Homo sapiens: one gene and its partners. The protein of the gene in region 4 purifies or fractionates together with the protein of the main gene of each other region. This does not show direct contact. Each region holds a gene or a part of one and is shown on either strand. Other genes may lie near its edges.

Region 1 (4,907 bases), on a different chromosome or scaffold from region 4:
TCCTTCTTTATCTAGCTACCTAGAGTGAGCTTAAAAGGTAGGAACAAAATACCTGACTAGGGTAAGTAGGTTGTCCTCCAGGATACTGAGAAGGCATCTGTCCTCCAGGAAAGCCACCTATAATGTTAAAAAAAATAATAATAATACGGCAACAGGTCTTACATGTTTTAATTTTTCAAAACAGCATTGATGACTATGAATATGGAAACATACAAGAACATTCACACTATGATACTTATGAGGATAGTTTTTAAAAATATAATTTACTGAATCTAAAACCAACTTTGGTCATAAGAACCTTTTTAATATTCCATGTTCTACATAAGATCCTCATAAATAATACTTTTTTCACACTTGAATCAGATTAAATTCTGAGTCCACCTGGAATGGTTGTCAGAATACAGTTCTGGGGGTGGTTTTACTATTGGTACAGGAGTGGGCAGAGAAGTTCCTGAAGGCTTCCTTTTGGCTTTGGGACAGATTTTTTTAATAGAAAAAGTGTGACTTTATCTCTATTTTACTGATTAAACTTTTCCATCAATTTAATATATTTCATAAAACCATTATGTTTAAAATTATTTATGGAAATATAAACATTTATTGCAGATTATCTCAAATATAAACTAAGTTCCCTCAATGGTGATTTAAAAACTCAAAATATCATGATACTGTTTTTTTCTGGACAGCTGGTACCTACCAGGTAGTGGAACCTGTGCTGGACCACCTCCATAAGACTGTGAAGGTGGCTGTGGATACCCAGAAAAGCCTGCTCCACCTGGTGGGACTCCAAATCCTTGGCCTGGAGGAACTAGAGAAAAGAACATGTCAATAAACTATAGTACAGTTCTCATGATTGCAGAAAAAACTTTAGAAAAATATCTATTGTTAACAGTGGAAAAATATGCTATTAATGCTATAATAGCAGTCCCTGTTTATCTAGATTCAAAACTTCAAATTCTCCAGTAAAAAATAAGTTTTTAAATTTTTACCTTATATATTTATTTATTTTTTGAGACAGTCTCACTCTGTTGCCTAGGCTGGAGTTTAGTGGCACAATCTTGGCTCACTGCAAACTCTACCTACCACGTTCAAGTGATTTTCCTGCCTCAGCCTCCCAGGTAGGTGGGATTACAGGCATGCACCACCACACCCAGCTAATTTTCATATTTTTAGTAGAGACAGGGTTTCACCATGTTGGCCAAGCTGGTCTCGAACTCCTTGCTTCAAGTGATCCACCCACCTCAACCTCCCAAAGTGTCGGGATTACAGGTGTGAGACACCACACCCAGCCAAAATATTACTTTATTACTCTTCCCTACTAACTTAAAATACAAAAGGGCTAAGGTTTTTTTGTTGTTTTTTGGGGTCTTTTTTACCTTTGAATAAAGCTGACCTAAAGGTCACAGTCTTGCTAATTGAAATGTCTTAATCAGGTCTTAAGACTACAAACAAGCAAAGTGTTACATATTGGTCCTTTATTGCCATGAAATTTATTCCAAGTCCCTTCACAGTGGAATTTTTGAAACTGCTCCCAGCTTTCATGTCCCCAGAGAATCTTCATCCCTCCATCTTGCCAGCTAGGTCCTTACTACCTAAGGTTACCTAAGAGCGACTTGACCTTATACAAAACAAGCAGGAATGAAGAGGATAAAGGGAGAAGGAAAAAGTGCTACAGCAATCCCAATCATTACTAATTCCGCAACCCGTAACTCACCTCCGGGATAGGATGGAGCTCCCCCTGGCTGTGGGGCACCAGGATAGCCTCCAGGGGCTGGATAACCTCCAGGCGCAGGGTAGCCTCCAGCTCCTGGGTAGCCACTACTTGGCACTTGTGGGTAGGCACCTCCTCCCATTGGAGGAAAGCCACTAGGATAAGGATACTGACCAGAAGGGGGAAAAGATGACTCCTGACCTGCAGGCTGAAAAATCAGAATAATTTTTAAACAAATACGATCATAGAGAAATATGACCCATCTAAAAATAAGGAACAAACAGAGGTTATTATTAAGGTCTACCTCATTCTTTTACTTTTTAAAAGTCCCATTAGAAATCCTGGTATCTTATACTAGTTTATCAGTATACCAGTTTGTAAGGACACTTGTTTGTCAGAATTCAGTTAAATTTAATTCTACTTGAGTCAGGCAAGAGGGGTCTGCTTCTCTATTTGGGAGTCAGAACAGGATTCTTTACAAACCTCAAGGTTTTAAGAAAAAAAAAAAACTCATCAGTTCCTTCATTTTCCCAGCATCTACAAATATGAGAAAGATCCTCCTCTATATCCTAAACAGAGGAATTTGAGGCTTTCTTGCAACACATCTGGATCTGTTACATAATATTTAAAAATAAAAAAGGTAACCTGTATATCACATCACACACCGGATGTGACATTTTGGACTTCATGGTTCAGAGCAGCAATATGCAGAGTGGCAGAGATTGTTGCATGTTCACTGAACTCTTTCTCCCCAGGCCACAAAGCTATACAGACTACACTTCCCAGACCCCCTTGCAGTTAGGTCGAACCACATGAATGAATATCAGTAAATGAACATAGACAAAAGTGAGATACACCACTTTCTAAACCTGTCCCCTAAAAACCTCTGGCAAATCCTCCATGCTCTCTCTCTTCCTTCATCTGCCACCCATAAGCAGAGGATCCAGTGGAGGACTCCAAAGTGCTAAAGGATGGTAGGATCAGAATAAGGAAGGAGCCTGGAAACCCAAAACACTGCATGAAACAAAGCCTCGTCCCACCCACCCCCTATCCTCCACTGACGTCCAGGAAACTGAAGAAAGAAATACATTTGTTTTTTCATCGTGTTAAGTCACTGAGATTTGGGAGTTGTCTGTTTTAGCAATTAGCCTACACTGACTGAAATAGTTACTACAGTCCTGTTTAATACATAGGGACTTGGGAACATATCCATAATTCTCATCTCTCCTATGATAAATTCACGAGAGCTATATAATCACTTTGCATAAGGATACATATTATCATAAACTTGTATAGACCCCTCTTCCTATTCTCCCAGGGTTAGATAGCAGCCCCACAGTTATGAGTATAAAACCAAAATGTGGGCTGGGCTAAGTGGCTCATGCCTGTAATCCCAGCGCTTTGGGAGGCCGAGGTGGGCGGATCACGAGGTCAGGAGATTGAGGCCATCCTGGCCAACATTGTGAAACCCCATCTCTACTAAAAATACAAAACCTAGCTGGGCGTGGTGGCACGTACCTGTAATCCCAGCTACTCAGGAGGCTGAGGCAGGAGAATCGCTTGAACCCCAGGAGACGGAGGTTGCAGTGAGTCGAGATCACACCACTGCACTCTAGCCTGGTGACAGAGCGAGACTCCATCTCAAAAACAAAAACAAAAACAAAAACAAAAAACTGAAATGTGGCCAGGCGCAATGGCTCATGCCTATAATCCCAGCACTTTGGGAGGCCAAGGAGGGCAGATCATTTGAGGTCAGGAGTTTGAGACAAGCCTGGCCAACATGGTGAAATTCCGTCTCTACTAAAAATACAAAAAATCAGCCAGGCACAGTGGCGGGCACCTGAAATCCTAGCTACTCGGGAGGCTGAGGCAGGAGAATCACTTGAACCCAGGAGGCATAAGTTGCAGTGAGCTGAGATCACACCACTGCACTCCAGCCTGGGCGCACAGCGAGACTCCATCTCAAAAACACAAACAAACAAACAAACAAAAACTGAAACGCACAATTCTTACTTATGGCTCAGCTCTTAGTCCTCAGAGTAGTATAGCTATCAACAAGGTGGAACTTAGTAGCACATTTATAAAACGTACTCCAAGTCTAAGAACTACAAATCCACTGCAATTTATCTCTGGGTCTAGCCAAGCCGTTAATTATTTTAAACATTCTAACACAAAGGTTAAGATGCAGTGATATTATGACTCAAGGGCATTAAAAAAAAGAAAAAGAACCAGTGATTCATGGGATGGATTTTGCTTACATCCATGTTTTACTGGCTCATACAGCAGTTAACATTTTTTAAAACTAACTCCTAAATTTTGAACCTTTGGGCAATTTCACATAGAACCCAAGTTTCTGGCTTTACTTGAAGGGCTGGAGTATCTAGCAACGCTGAGTGTGCCTCCCTCCATGGCTACACAGGGCTGGTGCTAAGCACCTGCCAGCTTTCAATAGACAAAGCAAGACCTCTCTAGTCCCCCACACAATTGCCTTTCCTCACTTCTACGTAGTACCTCTGAGCATCTGAATTTATGACCCCTGCTCAAGCATATCTGTAAGATCTGACATGGGCCAGTCCCAAACAACACCTGTTTTAAGGATGTGAGGTATTAAGTGGCAATACTTACAGGATATCCAGGGAAAGGTGGGTAGCCTGTTGGGGGATAGCCTGGGTATGACATTCTGTAACAACAATAAAAAATGTCCTCTGTAAGTTTTTTGTTGTTTTGTTTTGTTTTGTTTTGTTTTTTGAGACGGAGTCTCACTCTGTCACCAGGTTGGAGTGCAGTGGCGTGATTTTGGCTCACTGCAACCTCTGCCTCCGGGTTCAAGCGATTCTCCTGCCTCAGCCTCCCAAGTAGCTGGGACTACAGGTGCACGCCACCATGCCCAGCTAATTTTTATATTTTTTGTAGAGATGGAGTTTCACCATGTTGGCCAGGATTGTCTCAATCTCTTAACCTGGTGATCCACCTGCCTCAGCCTCCCAAAGTGCTGGGATTACAGGTGTGAGCCACCGCGCCCAGCCTGTAATTTCTTATAATGGTTAAGGCCTTTGAAAACATACAGATATACACACACATACACAACACACACACACACACACACACAAGGTTTTATGCAAAATATTTCTCTTTTCAAAAGAGTCTGGCATAAAATTAAAATGTGGATATTAGGGGTATAAGCAAAGCTTATTAA
Region 2 (4,907 bases), on a different chromosome or scaffold from region 4:
AAGTTGCAGTGAGCCATGATCACACCACTGCACTCCAGTCTAGGCAACAGAGCGAGATCCTGTCTTAAGAAAAAAAAATTGTCCGGGCGCAGTGGCACATGCCTGTAATCCAGCACTTCGGGAGGCTGAGGCAGGTGGATCACCTGAGGTCAGGAGTTCGAGACCAGCCTGGCCAACATGGTGAAATCCCATCTCTACTAAAAATACAAAAAAATTAGCCGGGGGTGGTGGCGGGTACCTATAATCCCAGCTACTTGGGAGGCTGAGGCAGGAGAATTGCTTGAACCTGGGAGGCGGAGGTTGCAGTGAGCTGAGATCTGACCATTGCACTCCAGCCTTGGCAACAAGAACGAAACTCTGCCTCAAAAAAAAAAGGAAGAAAAAAGAAAAAAACATCGCTAAGAGTAAATTTCAAATGTTCTCACCACAAAAATGTTAAGTATTTGAAGTCATGGATATGTTAACTAACCTGATTTAATTATTCCACATTGTATCCAAACTGTATGTATTGGATTACATAACTTTGTAACCCAAATTATAAATTACCAGTTTATAATAAAAAATAATTTGTTGCAAAAAGAATCCATATGGTTTAGGTTTTATGCTATAGGCAAAATTTAGAAGATGTTTTCCTTAGCAGGTCTTTGTAGGAGCAACTTAAAGACCTAGGAAAGATCTTTCTAACATGTTCTGTGCTACCAAGATTCTGTGGTTGGACATCTGGCTGGGTTTCAGTGAGGGTGGAGAAGGCTGGCCAAGTCTTAACCTAGGCTTTTCTGATACAGTGGGAGCCTGCAGAACTTGAAGGAAATGGTCGAAGTGTCCCAGTAGATCAAGAAAGTAAGCTGGCACGGTAGTAGCCTTCCATGCACTTTTTAAAGACTTTTGAGCTATTTGGGAGAGGAAAAGTTTTCAGGGAAAAAAATTCTTTAAACTTAAGCAAACTTAAATGTTTTTCCTTCTTTGAATAATTAATACTTGTGGCTTTAAAACTTTTCCTAATAGGCCCAGCTTCCCGATCAGTGGAGACGTTGAAGGAGATGATTAAGTCTGGAATGAATGTGGCTCGTCTGAACTTCTCTCATGGAACTCATGAGGTGAGCTGTGGCTGGACCCTATGGCCATTGTGATGGCCTGTAGGAAACAGGGAGGGGGTGCAGTGTTCGTTTAGCCACAGTGGACTAGACAAGGATGAGTCTGAGTTTCACAGTCAGTGTGAAGTTTGTCTTTACTAGCCCATCCCTACTCTCCTTCCCTCTTGTCCTGACAAAGCAACTGGCTGAGTCTCTTTTAGCAAAAAGGACCCCCTTTGTTGCTGGCTGTGGTTCTCCCACACACCTCTCCTACCCTTAGCTTTTACAAAGGAAGATATGGAAAGGTTCTACTGGAAAACCCTCTAAGCCTTAGGTGTCCTGGCCACAGCGCTTGACTCTCCTGTCCCAGGGTTTCTGCTTCACCTTGTGTTGCCATGGTAAACCATCTAGCAGATTGATTCTAGCTTAGAACCAAAATAACTGGGCAGGTCCATGAGAACGGTTTCCACTATTCTAAGTTTTGAGGGACTGAGCCTAATGCATAAGCACTATCTGGGGTGTAATACCCCACTTCCTCAGCACTGTATTCTCAGCCTGTGCCTTCCCAGGGGTTCTGGTACATTAAAATAACACCAGTTAGCACTCTTCCCCAGGAGCCTAGTAGGACTGTATTTGTGCTGGGCTCTTTATTAGCTGGCTTTACCTATGGACAGAGGCCTTGCCCAGGAGCCAGGTAGCAGCTGTTGGGATGGCTCCATTCCTGCCTCCATTGCCAGATTTAGAATTAACCCATTCTGAGGAGCTTGGGGTTCCCTGAGGTACCATGACTTATTTATTTTTTTATTTTATAAAACAAAATTTTGCTCTGTCATCCAGGCTGGACTGCAGTGGTATGATTATGGCTAACTGGATCCTTGACCTCCCAGGTTCAAGTGATCCTCTTGCCTCAGCCTCCCGAGTAGCTGGGAATACAGGCATGCACCACCACACCTGGCTAATTTAAAAATTTTTTTGGGGGAAATGAGGTCTCACTATATTGCCTTGGCTGGTCTCAAACTCCTGGGCTCAAGTGATTCTCTCAAATGTTGGGATTACAGGAATGAGCTACCATGCTCAGCCTGGGATTGTGCCTTTTTAAAACCTTCAGACTTAACCATAGGTTTCCCATAGATCATGGGATTTCGTAATGGCATTGATAAGAGGAATTACAGAAGAGGCAAACTTTGCACCTGTCTTGGCTTCTGTATTTCCTGTTGAGAGTAAAGAAAATGCTATCCTGTAAGGCCAATTGCCTTACAGAGGTTGCCCTCTGGCATTTGGAAGTTGGTATTAAGTTTGGACTAAAAATAAAGCCTCAGGAAATGCAATCCAAGAGTGAATTCCTCCTTTTGGGAAACACAAGACTCTTCATCATAGATTCCCTAACCTGTGTTCATAAACAGCCTATGGCCTGGCTAGTGGCTGGCCCTTAAATGTCATGGGGACCTGACCAAGTCCAGCAGACATACCATGTAGGTTAAGACATGTCCCTGTACCTTTTGGAAAATTCTGTAGTTTTCCAAAAGCAAGGGGTCCTTAGCAGGAGTCACCGAGAATTACTTGTTAGAGAATTAAGTGTTAGCTTAGCTTAGAGAGAGCTGAAGACAATGCTGGAGGTCTGTTCGCTGTTGATCCCTGCTGCTGTAGTCTGCCATGGGCTCCTGCATTCAGGGGAAGGAGCAGAAATAGATTTTTAAGAAGTTGACCTTTAAGTAGGCTTTATGGTTCCTTCATCCAGTAAAATAACACCACATAGCTCTAACATGGCAAGGGCGAGTGATACCTGCCACACCTGCTGGATGAGAGCTGGCTCCGATTTTGGTATTTTAAACTTTAAGAGGCTTTTGGAGATTATCTCTACTTTCACTCCTATTCCCAGATTATAATTAAGATTTATTTTTTATTTTTTATCTATTTATTTTTTAAAGATGTCCCTCTTGTGTGTTCATTTTGAAGTTTTAGACCAAGATGAGGTTGTGTGTGGGCTCAGCTTGGAAACTGATCTGAAATTATTCTAATTTATATAATGTAATGTAAACAGTTTCAGCCTTACCATACGTCAGGGCTATCGTTTCATGTGCACCTTTGACTAGGGGCTGGGGCGTACTTTTCCAGTTTCTGACTATTTTAAATGCTCTTCTGAGCAGAACGTTGAGATTACTGTCTTCCCTCTCACTCTGACAGAGGGACATCAAATGTCTGCATCTGATCTTTTAACAGCTTTTTTTTTTTGAGACAGAATCTTGCTCTGTTGCCCAGGCTGGAGTGCACTGGCACAATCTCTGCTCACCACAACCTCTGCCTCCCAGGTTCAAGCAATTCTCATACCTCAGCCTCCTGAGTAGCTGGGATTACAGACCTGTGCCACCACGCCCAGCTAATTTTTTTATATTTTTAGTAGAGACGGGGTTTCGCCATGTTGGCCAGGCTGGTCTTGAACTTGTGACCTCAGGTGATCCGACTGCCTCGGCCTCCTAAAGGCGTGAGCCACCACGCCCAGCCCTCTTTTAACAGCTTTGGCAACTAGTCTTCAGCCCTCACTTTTGGCAGTTCACATGGGCAAGATGCATTCTTGCTGAACATGTGGTTCCATATGCCATGTTTTCCAGATTTATTTATTTATTTATTTATTTATTTAGAGAGGGAGTCTCGCTCTGTCATCCAGGCTGGAGTGCAGTGGCACGATCTTGGCTCACTGCAACCTCTGCCTCCTGGGTTCAAGAGATTCTTCTGCCTCAGCCTCCTAAGTATCTGAGATTACAGGCACCTGCCACCACACCCGACTAATTTTTGTATTTTAGTAGAGACTTGGTTTCACCTTGTTGGCCAGGCTGATCTCGAATTCCTGACCTCAAGTGATCCATCCGCCTTGGCCTCCCAAATTGCTGGGATTACAGGCGTGAGCCACCACACCTGGCCTAGAAATAATGACTTTTAAACAACCTAAATGTAGAGCCTTCCACAGGACAGCATTGATGGATGCTTTACCACATAACATCCCAATAAAGCCACAGCTGAAGTGGAAGACTCAGTACACCTCCCAGAGATGCTCTAAGAGATTATGATATATGACATAGATTTGAATAATATACCTAATAATTGGTATGTTTATAATATATGGTTTTACATCCCCAAGACCAAAAATGCATGTTTGCATGAAACACTCATGGTTACAAAAATATATTAGGCCACCAAAAAAACCCCCACGTTTCATAAAGTAGAAATTATACAGACACATTCTCTGATAAAATTTTTTAGTGGAAATTAAGAACAAAGTCAAGAAAACTGAAGTGTGCTTACTTTAGAAAGCAAAGATCTCAAGGTAGATGAAATAAATATTTAACTCAGAACACTAGGGGAGGAAAACCCTAAAAAGGGTGAAGAAAATAATTTTGTAAGATTATAGCTCAATGAAATGAAAATAAATTTGACAGATTAAGCTAAGAGCTGATTCTTTGTGGGGAAAAAATAGTAAAATAGAAAGTTCTGAGAAGCCAGGTGAAGAATGCGAGGATGTGCAAATAAGAGTATGAATAGAAAAGAGAATATTTCCTACACATTGGAGATTTTAAAAGTCAAGAAAGACTTATAACTTAATTCCTATATAGAGAGATGACTCTGGCTATTTTCAAAGAAAAGATAAATATCCAAAAGATAGAAAATATGAATAGACCAGTGGCCATAAGAAGTTGAAAAAGTGGGCTGGGCGTGCGGTGGCTCACACCTGCAATCCCAGCACTTTGGGAGGCCAAGGCGGAGGGATCACTTGAGGTCAGGAGTTCGAGACCAGCCTGGCCAACATGGTGAAACCCTGTCTCTACTAAAAATACAAAA
Region 3 (4,907 bases), on a different chromosome or scaffold from region 4:
GAGCTTGCAGTGAGCCGAGATCACGCCACTGCACTCTAGCCTGGATGACAGAGCAAGACTCCATCTCAAAAAAAAAAAAAAACAAAACAGTACTGTTTTCAGGGCCCCAATACCAGGTGCTTGGAAACAATAGATGAGTTTGGAGAAGAGTGGCTTTAAAGGTTGTAACTGTTTATAAAACACTTGCGCTTATCGAATTTGGACTGCATTCTGAATCATAAATATAATAGGAGGACTTCAACATTTTTAGTGTCAAAATAATAAATGATGGTAGGAGCTCGATTTAATTTTTATAAAGTCATAATCAAACTAGTTAAATGTTGCCACAAGTATCATTCAGTTATTGTTTGTAGCTTTTCAGTCAGGCAGAATGATTTGCCAAGTAGGTAAGGGCATAAATAGGCCAGTGGCTTATTTATTTATTTATTTATTTATTTATTTATTTATTTATTTATTTAGAGATAGAGTCTCTCTCTGTCACCCAGACTGGAGTGCAGTGGCATGATATTAGCTCAGTACAACCTCTGCCTCCCGAGTTCAAGCGATTCTCTTACCTCAGCCTCCTGAGTAGTTGGGATTACAGGTGTGCACCACCTCACCCAGCTAATTTTTGTATTTTTAGTAGAGACAAGGTTTTGCCATGTTGGTCAGGCTGGTCTCGAACTCCTGGCCTCAAGTAATTTGCCCACCTTGGCCTCCCAAAGTGCTGGGATTACAGGCATGAGCCACCATTCCTGGCCACCAGTGGCTTTTAAAGGATGGAGTGGAATTGGTTTTGCCACATAACCACTGTCAAAAAACCCATCATGCTCTGTTTTAGGATCTTATCTTACAAGTACTTGTCTTGCAGTCAAAATAAGCAAGAGAAGAGTGAAGCCAGAGAAGCACTACAGTGCCGCTTCTCCTCTGTCGTCATCTTCACCAGAGGCAGATGACTTCTTTATAGCAAGGCCCAGCCACATTTCACGGGGCAAGCAGTGGTTTAAGTGGTAGGGCTTTAGTGAAACATGTATGTCTTCCTTTCTCCTGCCTTGAAGCCAGAGACATTACTAGAAAGAACTCTTGGCCCTGTTAAGGGTTCCCAGTGTGGTGTGCTGTTGCTTAAATAAGCAGGTCATAGAGTTGGCTCAGATTTAAGGGATTTAAGGGAAATAGATTACATATCCAATAGGAAGGGCTGCAAAGAGCTTATGACCATGTTTAAACCCCAACCTGTGTATGTATATGTATGCATATCCCATCAGTACACACACACCTCTCTGCAAATAGGTGTTTGTGTGCACACACACCTCTCTGCAAATAGGTGTTTGTGTGCACACACACTTCTAAATTTTAGATAGCTAGAAGTAGTTTAGGTTAGTTTTCTTCTGGTGTCAGTTATTTTGCTTCATTGTTTTCCAGAATGCTTTGGAAAGTTTTCCTGAACTAACAATAATTACTCGAGATTCTAAAGCAAAGAGTGGAGGAACTGCTATTTCTAAAATCAAAATGAATGGCAAAGCCTATAATAAGAAAACTCTAAGGACTTCTAAAACAACCACCAAATCTGCACAAGTAAGTGTAATTGATTATTAATGTAACTATACCTTTTCCAATTGTTAATACAATTCCTACTTAAAACATTGAAACAAGCAAATATTTTACTATGTTGTCATTAAGTGTGAAGGTTTTTCAGGTAGGAATAAGCGTCACTGGCCTGAGGAACAGGGACGCATGGTGGTTTATTGTTTTTCTATAGCACAGTATCAGGCATATAATATGTGCTCACAAATTTCTTAAATTGACTAATATGGAAGAAATCATCTCGTGCTCATGTTTATATATTTGTAGGTAGTTTTTCATTTTTTAAATTGCATATATTATGTACAAAATGTTTTGAAATGTGTGTACATTGTGAAATGGCTAATTCAAACTCATTAACATATGCATTACTTGTAATATAGGTATATTTTTAATTGTATATGCATGCACATAGATAAGTAAGTGTGCAGAACACATTCCATAAAAAGATGAAATGTTTATTTCATATCTGCAAAGTCATTAAAATTGGAATTTGTTCATCTTCAAACATAGTATAAATTGTTATAACCTTTTCAGAAAACAGTTTGGCAACATATCAACTTCACAGCAAAAATGTATTCAGGGCTAAGCACAATGGCTCAAGCCTATAATCCCAGCACTTTGGGAGGCTGAGGCAGGAGGATCACTTGAGTCCAGGTGTTCGAGACCAGTCTTGGCAACAAAGCAAGGCCCCATGTCTACCCTGGGGGGAGAAAAAAAAATTAGCCAGGCATGGTGCCATGCACCTGTAGTCCTAGCTACTTGAGAAGCTGAGTGGGAGGATCGCTTGAGTCCAGGGAATTGAGACTGCAGTGAGCTGTGATTGCACCCCTGCACTCCAGCCTGGGTGACAGAATGAGACACTGTCTCAAAAAAAAAAAAAAAAGTATTCTGTAGAAATAGATTCAGAAATGCATAAAAATACATACCTTTGCTCATTGTGGAATTGTTTGTAAGAGCAATCCAATTATGTACCACCAGTGTGAGGTTAGATAAATGAAGAGCCACGTAATGTCATACTACGTGCTTTTTATAAAGAAGAGATAGATTTGTTCATTCTTTCAGAAAAATTTTTTTGAGTGCCTATAGTATGCCAAGTACAGTTCTAAGTACTAGAGATACAACAGTGAAAACTGGTTAAAAGTCCTTACCCTCATATAGTTTGTATTTGGGGAGGATGGGGAGGGACAGCTATATGTACTAAATGAAAAGATAGCCAATTATTAGTTAGGTCAAAAAACACGTTGGAAGAAAGAAGAAAAGTTGCTAGACAATATGTATAGTGTGATTCCCTTCTCATTACAAAATTAGTGTTATTAACATACATGTTATACCTGGGGGAAAACATTAAAAAATATATAACATGCCATTAGCTTTGTTTAGCTCTGAAGCAGGAGATTATAGGGAGCTTTTATTTTATAAATCATCTCATATGTTTATTGTTTAAATTTTCCTATAATGCTTAAGTTTTTTCAATAATGCATATTTATATGCAGGATAAAGAATAAGATTTTAAAATATAATTTAAATTCTTATTTTGAATAAGTCTCTCCATATTAACCCAACTGAATACCTACCCATATATGTCATTTTCAACATTGCCATTGAGACTTTTGATCTAGTATTTTCCTCAAAGTGTTCTTAGCTCAGATACTCCATGAAATGTATCTATAAACTTTTTTCTTTTTATAGGAGTTTGCTGTCGATCCAGAGAAAATACAGTTGTATTCTTTGTATCATTCACTCCATCATTATAAGTACCATGTTTATCTGATATGTAAGGATGAGGTAATTTCTTCTCATTTACTTAAAAAAAATGTTTTTCAGAATGTTAAGGAGACTCTAGCCATAGTATTTTGGAGTGTTTTAAAGAGAGTTGTGAAATACATGTGTGTATGTATTTTGTCTATGTATTCTGTAAATAATGACTTGATTTATTGTTCTGAGTCTCTCTGCTATGTTTTGTGCTCAGATTTACCCGAGCCTCACCACCTCTTGTAGGAGCTATAATTGGTAATGTTTTGAAGCTGTTGGTGCTTGCTTTACATCGCCATAATAAATGATGTTTTATTGCATTTTGTTCTCTCACAGTGTATGATGATCTTGCTTTAATTCACTTCAGTCACTGCTTTGACATCTCACTGCCTTACTTATTACTTAGAATGGCCTTATCCCACTTAATTGCAGAGAAGTGGGGTTTTGTGCCTTGGCATGAAAAACTGAAAGTTAAAATTTAATTGTAGCTTTTAAGTTGTTCAGAGATTATACATGACAAAATATCACCTCATGGATGGGATATAAGCATTAATTTCCACAGCCATGCTAAATGGTTGTAGACAATACTACCTTATTTGACCAGCACTATCACTTCTTTTCATTATAAAGGGTCCAAGGCTATATCTAATGTGTTTGACAGTAGTCTGGTATGGAAAGATGCTCATAAATCTAACCTTTATATAGCAAAAGAGAAAGCAAAGATGGTGATGCAACATAGGTTCACTGTTTTTACAATGCTCTAAAATGCAGAATCGACTCCAAAATTTGTCATTTGACTTTTAACGTAATTGGAAGAAATGGAGAAAGTCTGAAGTACTTTTTCTAGCCTTCCTTTCTGCCACCTTGGAGCCAAAGATGAGAGGATGAGATCTCACCCAAATTTAGCTGAAATAATCATTCTCCATGGATAGGATTAAGAAAAAAATAAAATACCAGTACTTGTAGTTGAACTTAAATATGATGTGATAAGTATAAGCTAATTTGGCGATTTTCTTTTTTTAGATTTCTTCGGTGCAGAAAAAAAATGAAGATTTAGGACAGGAGGAAATTGTTCAACTTTGTATGAAAAATGTAAAATGGGTGGAGGACCTCTTTGAAAAATTTGGAGAACTTCTAAATCATGTACAGCAGAAATGTTCCTGACTTTTCCACAAAAATCCCATCTTTTTATAGCACTAATGAAATGGCAGATATGGGGTGGTCAAAGATAATCAGATGTCAAGTAGTGGCCTTCTGCAGGCCGGCCGCTTCCATCATGGAACTGTCATTACCACCTCTGCTGAAGGACAGTGGTGCGGCCTTTAGGAACGAAGTTAGTCCTCTGGAAATGGACCTAAATCCCACCACATTTTTACCCTAATGAATGATTTTTCTATTTTGTAAACCATTGGGTAACTTGAGTCATATTTTCAGAAACATTTTTTGACAAATGATGAAGCATGCACTAAGTATAATTTTTTTTTATTGCTAGAGAAGTAACACTTAAAGTAACGATTTTTTTTTTCTGACTCCGGCTAAACACCAGAATGACAGAGAAGTGGCAGAAACCATATGTTTGTACTCACATCTGG
Region 4 (4,907 bases):
TGTACCAGAACCATTTTTTTTTTTTTTTGTAATAGCTATCGGAAAAAAAGTGTGATTACAAAGGAGACAAATTTCATTAGGAAATATTCTCTACAGATTTTTTCTTTGGTCCAGTTAATAACCACTTAATACAACAACAACAACAACAAGTATAACATAATTTCATCCCCACATGGTCACATTTGAAGGCATTCCTTCCAGGTGCCAGGCTGAGTCCTTATCAGCTATAGGCTAAATCCAAATGGCAAAAAACATTCCAGAGAGAATGCCAATGTGTATTTCTCTGGAAGTAAATGGATCAGGGTTATGGGTTTTTTTGTTTTTAGCAATCTGGGAGTTAGAGATTCAAATTTAGCTAATTTGCTTTAAAAGTGCTGTGAACACAAAAATAAAAGTTCTTTGCACTGGAGTCAAAGTTAACAAATATTTTCTTACTTTTTTTTTTTTTTTTAAGCTAAAGAGTGTATTTATTCTTAGTTCTAAAATTTGTTCTACTAGAAACATACTTGTTTAAATGGTTACAAGTTCTAATTTTACATTTTAGTGTGATTATTCATTTAAAAAAAATTCTGTTTTAAGGATATACATGTATAATTTAATAATAGATTAATTATAGAAGTAACAATTTTTACCACTTTGTAAACTTGCTACCCTTTTTGATTAGAAGTAAAAATACAAATTTCCAACACAATGAATATAATTTGGTTTATTTCTCTTTGACTCTCTATAAAAAAAGAACTGGAAAAACTATTGTATTAACTGATTTCAAGTATAGAAGCCATCTTGAAGAAAAGACAGTTACTTGAGCTCTTGTATTTATCAGATGATGAAAAGTGCAGAGAAGAAACAATAAATACAAATGTTCCTAGTCACTGTGTAAATCACATTTAAATTTGATGGGGTTTTCTAAGAATAACACTAAGTTTATAAGTATTAACAATCTTTTAAATCTGAAAAATGTTTTATAAATATGGGTATTAGTTAATATTTGTTATATAAAGTGTTGAATTATTAACTATTTCTTTAAAACAGGACAGATGGCCTAATTAAATGACAAAAGAAAACAACATCTTTTTACATTTTCCCTACTGATACTGTACATATGTAATATAAAGTACACATTCTGGAAGAAAAAAAGGAGTGACAGTCAGAGCAAGTGAGGGGTGGGAAGAGGAGGAAGGGAGGGAGGAAATGAACATTTTTTTCCAGAAGCAACAAAGCAAATATGACTTGGAAATGTCTTCTTGGTAAGAGAGCATGCAACTGTTTTAACATGCTTCTGGATATCAAAGTAACAATCTTATCAGGCAACAAAAAATGTGAAGGAGGAGCATGTATGGTTAAGGTTTTTAAAGGCATGCAGAAAATGGACAAAGTAATTAATATTTCATGCAGGTTTTGGTGTGGTTACACATTCACATTAATATACATGCCATCATGTACAGCTGAACACTGTGCAACAATTTTAAATAAAAAATAAAAACCTAGCCAAATGATATTTTGTTAACAGCAACTTTTCAAATCATATTAGAGAAGCAGTGTATATCAAATAACATCAATATATTATATTGTGCAGTTTTGATCATATACAACCATATTCATACCAAACAGTTTGATTATCCTCAGAAACCAACAATGCAGCTTCTGTGTCATCAGGATAGAGGCATGCAGAAGTGACAAGATTGTTGCTATTTATAGAAAACTGTAGGTTACTGTTACTAGGGTTCTGATGATCAGAAAACTGTTCATTTTCTTTCTGTGCAGGTTTATCCAAAGAGGCAGAAGCCTGGTCAGTTATTCTGATAACTGGCCTAGGAGGTAACCCACTTATGTTACTAACTAATTCTGTATTCAGGGATAAGAATGGCTGAGATGAATGGGCCACAGTAAATGGTCCTATGCTATCTTTTGCCAACATTCCGAATGCATCACTAGGCATCCTAATAGTGGCAAAAGTTTGGTTTAGAAAATGTGACCTTCCTGTTCTTGAGTTTCTAGCCTGGGCATATAGAGGCTCAGGCATGTCTATAGCTAAATCATTTTGGGCACAAGAACCTATAGTATGTGTTGGGATGTCAAGTATATGAGAGGACCACTGGTGTAAATGGTACTCACTAGATGCTGCAGTGGTGTTGCTGTCAGCAGCAGCTGGTGGTGAATCAACTGATATAGGCAGTCTACTGTCCTTGGTCAAAAAATCATGGATGCTTGTCCTTCGTGTAGTTCCTTCGGCAGTTGAGATCACGCTGCTTGCACGAGGTAAAGTTGCATAAGGGTTACTATCTTTTGATTGTCGTGACAGAGAAGATTCTTTTACTAATTTTATTTTTCCTTGAGTGCCTGGTGTAGGTTTTCCCGCAGAACTAATGAAGTAGGTATCTTCAGTTTTTCGAGGACCAGGTCTCAAAAACTCAGGCTTAGTTGTCCGTCTATCATAGAAGTCCCCTGGGGTTTTTCCACTTACTGACCTGGCCAGACCACAGCTAACTGGTTTGTCTTTTCCCAAAAAGTCAGAAGAGACAGACAAACTTTTCATTACTTCATCTAAAAGATTCTCTTGACTTGAGGACTTTATCTGTTTAAAAAAAAATTCAAAGCAGATTAGTGAATATAGTGCCATGTTTTTACTTTCCTGATTTAGCAGACTGTGCAATATAAAATTGTGGTACCTCTTAATACTCCTTAACTTACCAAAAAAAAAAAGCTCTGAAGTTCAATTACAGAAATTTAACTTGTGGTGTTCATCTAAATTAAGGTCATCATAGATAAAACTAACCTGTACTGAGGTAAGCTTATTGCTTTCTTCCAAAAACTGTTGTAGAGTAACAACTTCACTTCCAGGGGAACCAGTTTTGATCTTGTGATGTCGACTCTCCAGTGTTTCAGATATTTTGTGCTGGAGCACTGGGCTTGATCTGGTCTGTCTTTTCAAGTACTGGATTGGACTGCTACCACTGCTGGACCAAGCCTCATGGTCATGAAGCAGGCTAAATTCTCCACTGCTGTGGCTTTGTGGCCTGCTTTGGTTATTAACTGCACCTGCTTTTGGAGTAAATGGGGTGTTGAGATTTCAATAATAGAATTGAGATTAATACTTCATGAGTAATAACATTTGTTGACTGTGTGCTAATTATATGAACAGCCAAATTTACTTTCAAGCTTTATTTAGAAATGCTTAGTAAACCATGTCAATCTTTTATCAGTCTAACAATTGTCTGCCATAGCCTGCTTCCTTATTTTGTCAAACTGACAACTATTGTAAGCTCCATAAGGGCAAAGACTTGCTTTTACTATCATACTCAGAGCCTAAACAGAGCCTCATACAAAGCATTCAATATATTTTTTGAGTAAATGAATGAATAAATAAGTGAATAATATATTTTTTAAAATTCAGGTTCAAATAGTTATAAAATGCCTTGCAGGCCAGGCGTGGTGGCTCACGCCTGTAATCCCAACACTTTGGAAGGCCGAAGCAGGCGGATCACGAGGTCAGGAGTTGGAGACCAGCGTGGCCAATATGGAGAAACCCCGTCTCTACTAAAAATACAAAAAATTTGCCAGGCGTGCTGGTGCACGCCTGTAGTCCCAGCTACTCAGGAGGCTGAGGCAGGAGAATTGCTTGATACTGGGGGGGTGGAGGTTGCAGTGAGCAGAGATCGCGCCACTGCACTCTGGCCTGAGACTCTGTCTCAACAATAAAAATAAATAAAATAAAATGCCTCACAATTTAGGATAAGAACATGATTAGACAAAATATATATATATATTTCATCTAATGTGTATTTTTATATATATTATATATAATATATATAATTTATATATAATTATATATAAATATATAATATATAATATATAAATTTATATATTATATATAAATATATATAATATATATTATATATAAATATATATTATATATAAATATACATATGTGTGTATTTTTTTTTTTTGAGATGGGGTCTCACTGTGTCACCCAGGCTGGAATGCAGTGGCACGATCTCAGCTCACTACAACCCCCGCCTCCTGGGTTCAAGTGATTCTCTTGCCTCTGCCTCCCAAGTAGCTGGGATTACAGGCATGCGCCCCCATGCCAGGCTAATTTTTGTACTTTTAGTAGAGACGGGGCTTCACCATGTTGGCCAGGTTGGTCTGTAACTCCTGACCTCAGGTGATCTGCCCACCTCGGCCTCACAAAGTGCTGGGATTACAGGTGTGAGCCACCGCACCTGGCTCATTAGGTGAATTTTATATTATTTCAGTATGTTAAGACCAAAAACTGTTCTAAATGCAGAAAATTCTATTTTAATTATTTGCTTATCTAAGAAGTCCTCATTACTACTTGAAGGCTTCTCTGTTCATCCTGCATGGATAACTTTAAACATTTAAAAAAATTTAAAGAGCATACACATAAGGAAAGTTAAATAAAGATATGAAGCAATTACTTACAACATTTCAGTAAAAGTATACAATCAAATATGTAGTGCTTTATTCTTTTTTAAATGTCTTGATCATCTTATTGTTCTTGCTGTCCACTGTTGATATGGTGCCTATATAACCTTAAAAGACTCAGTTGACATTAAGCAACTATATAAAATGAAAATTTGCTAGTTCTAGAATTAAACTCCCTCAAATCTATGGTGTTCCTTAAGAGTACGGATTTGTTTTGATCACGAACAAACTGTACATCAAAACAGAAAATGCAACTTTCCATTGTTTCCCAGTCACAGAGAGTAAAGTGGGCCACGAAAGAATTTGGCTCAAGTTATGTAACATTTTACAAAAGTAAGAGTTTCTTAAATTTTCAAATCAGAAAAAAAAAAATCCTATTTTCAGACTACATTTTTCTACTGGATGTAAAAACATTTTTAATTAAATAATTTATTTCTTTTAAGGCTAGTCAAATGAAGTAG

The links. The genes of interacting proteins can lie anywhere in the genome.
Region 1: the proteins of CCDC88A (region 4) and ANXA7 purify together in Homo sapiens (affinity purification with mass spectrometry, with the first as the bait; one large-scale study listed by BioGRID). This does not show direct contact.
Region 2: the proteins of CCDC88A (region 4) and PKM purify together in Homo sapiens (affinity purification with mass spectrometry; one large-scale study listed by BioGRID and IntAct). This does not show direct contact.
Region 3: the proteins of CCDC88A (region 4) and QSER1 purify together in Homo sapiens (affinity purification with mass spectrometry, with the first as the bait; one large-scale study listed by BioGRID). This does not show direct contact.

The regions. Positions count from the first base shown.
Region 1 is NC_000010.11:73,396,467-73,401,373, forward strand, and holds part of ANXA7 (annexin A7), read right to left. Parts: intron 4,392-4,907; 5' UTR 4,391-4,391; coding exon 4,337-4,390; intron 1,920-4,336; coding exon 1,715-1,919; intron 809-1,714; coding exon 698-808; intron 118-697; coding exon 53-117; intron 1-52. UniProt on the Homo sapiens protein: Calcium/phospholipid-binding protein which promotes membrane fusion and is involved in exocytosis.
Region 2 is NC_000015.10:72,213,599-72,218,505, reverse strand, and holds part of PKM (pyruvate kinase PKM), read left to right. Parts: intron 1-1,005; coding exon 1,006-1,097; intron 1,098-4,907. UniProt on the Homo sapiens protein: Catalyzes the final rate-limiting step of glycolysis by mediating the transfer of a phosphoryl group from phosphoenolpyruvate (PEP) to ADP, generating ATP.
Region 3 is NC_000011.10:32,971,996-32,976,902, forward strand, and holds part of QSER1 (glutamine and serine-rich protein 1), read left to right. Parts: intron 1-1,401; coding exon 1,402-1,554; intron 1,555-3,252; coding exon 3,253-3,348; coding exon of another isoform or gene 3,349-3,561; exon of another isoform or gene 3,562-3,635; intron 3,636-4,338; coding exon 4,339-4,479; 3' UTR 4,480-4,907. UniProt on the Homo sapiens protein: Plays an essential role in the protection and maintenance of transcriptional and developmental programs.
Region 4 is NC_000002.12:55,293,482-55,298,388, forward strand, and holds part of CCDC88A (girdin), read right to left. Parts: intron 3,043-4,907; coding exon 2,777-3,042; intron 2,576-2,776; coding exon 2,116-2,575; intron 1-2,115. UniProt on the Homo sapiens protein: Bifunctional modulator of guanine nucleotide-binding proteins (G proteins). Acts as a non-receptor guanine nucleotide exchange factor which binds to and activates guanine nucleotide-binding protein G(i) alpha subunits.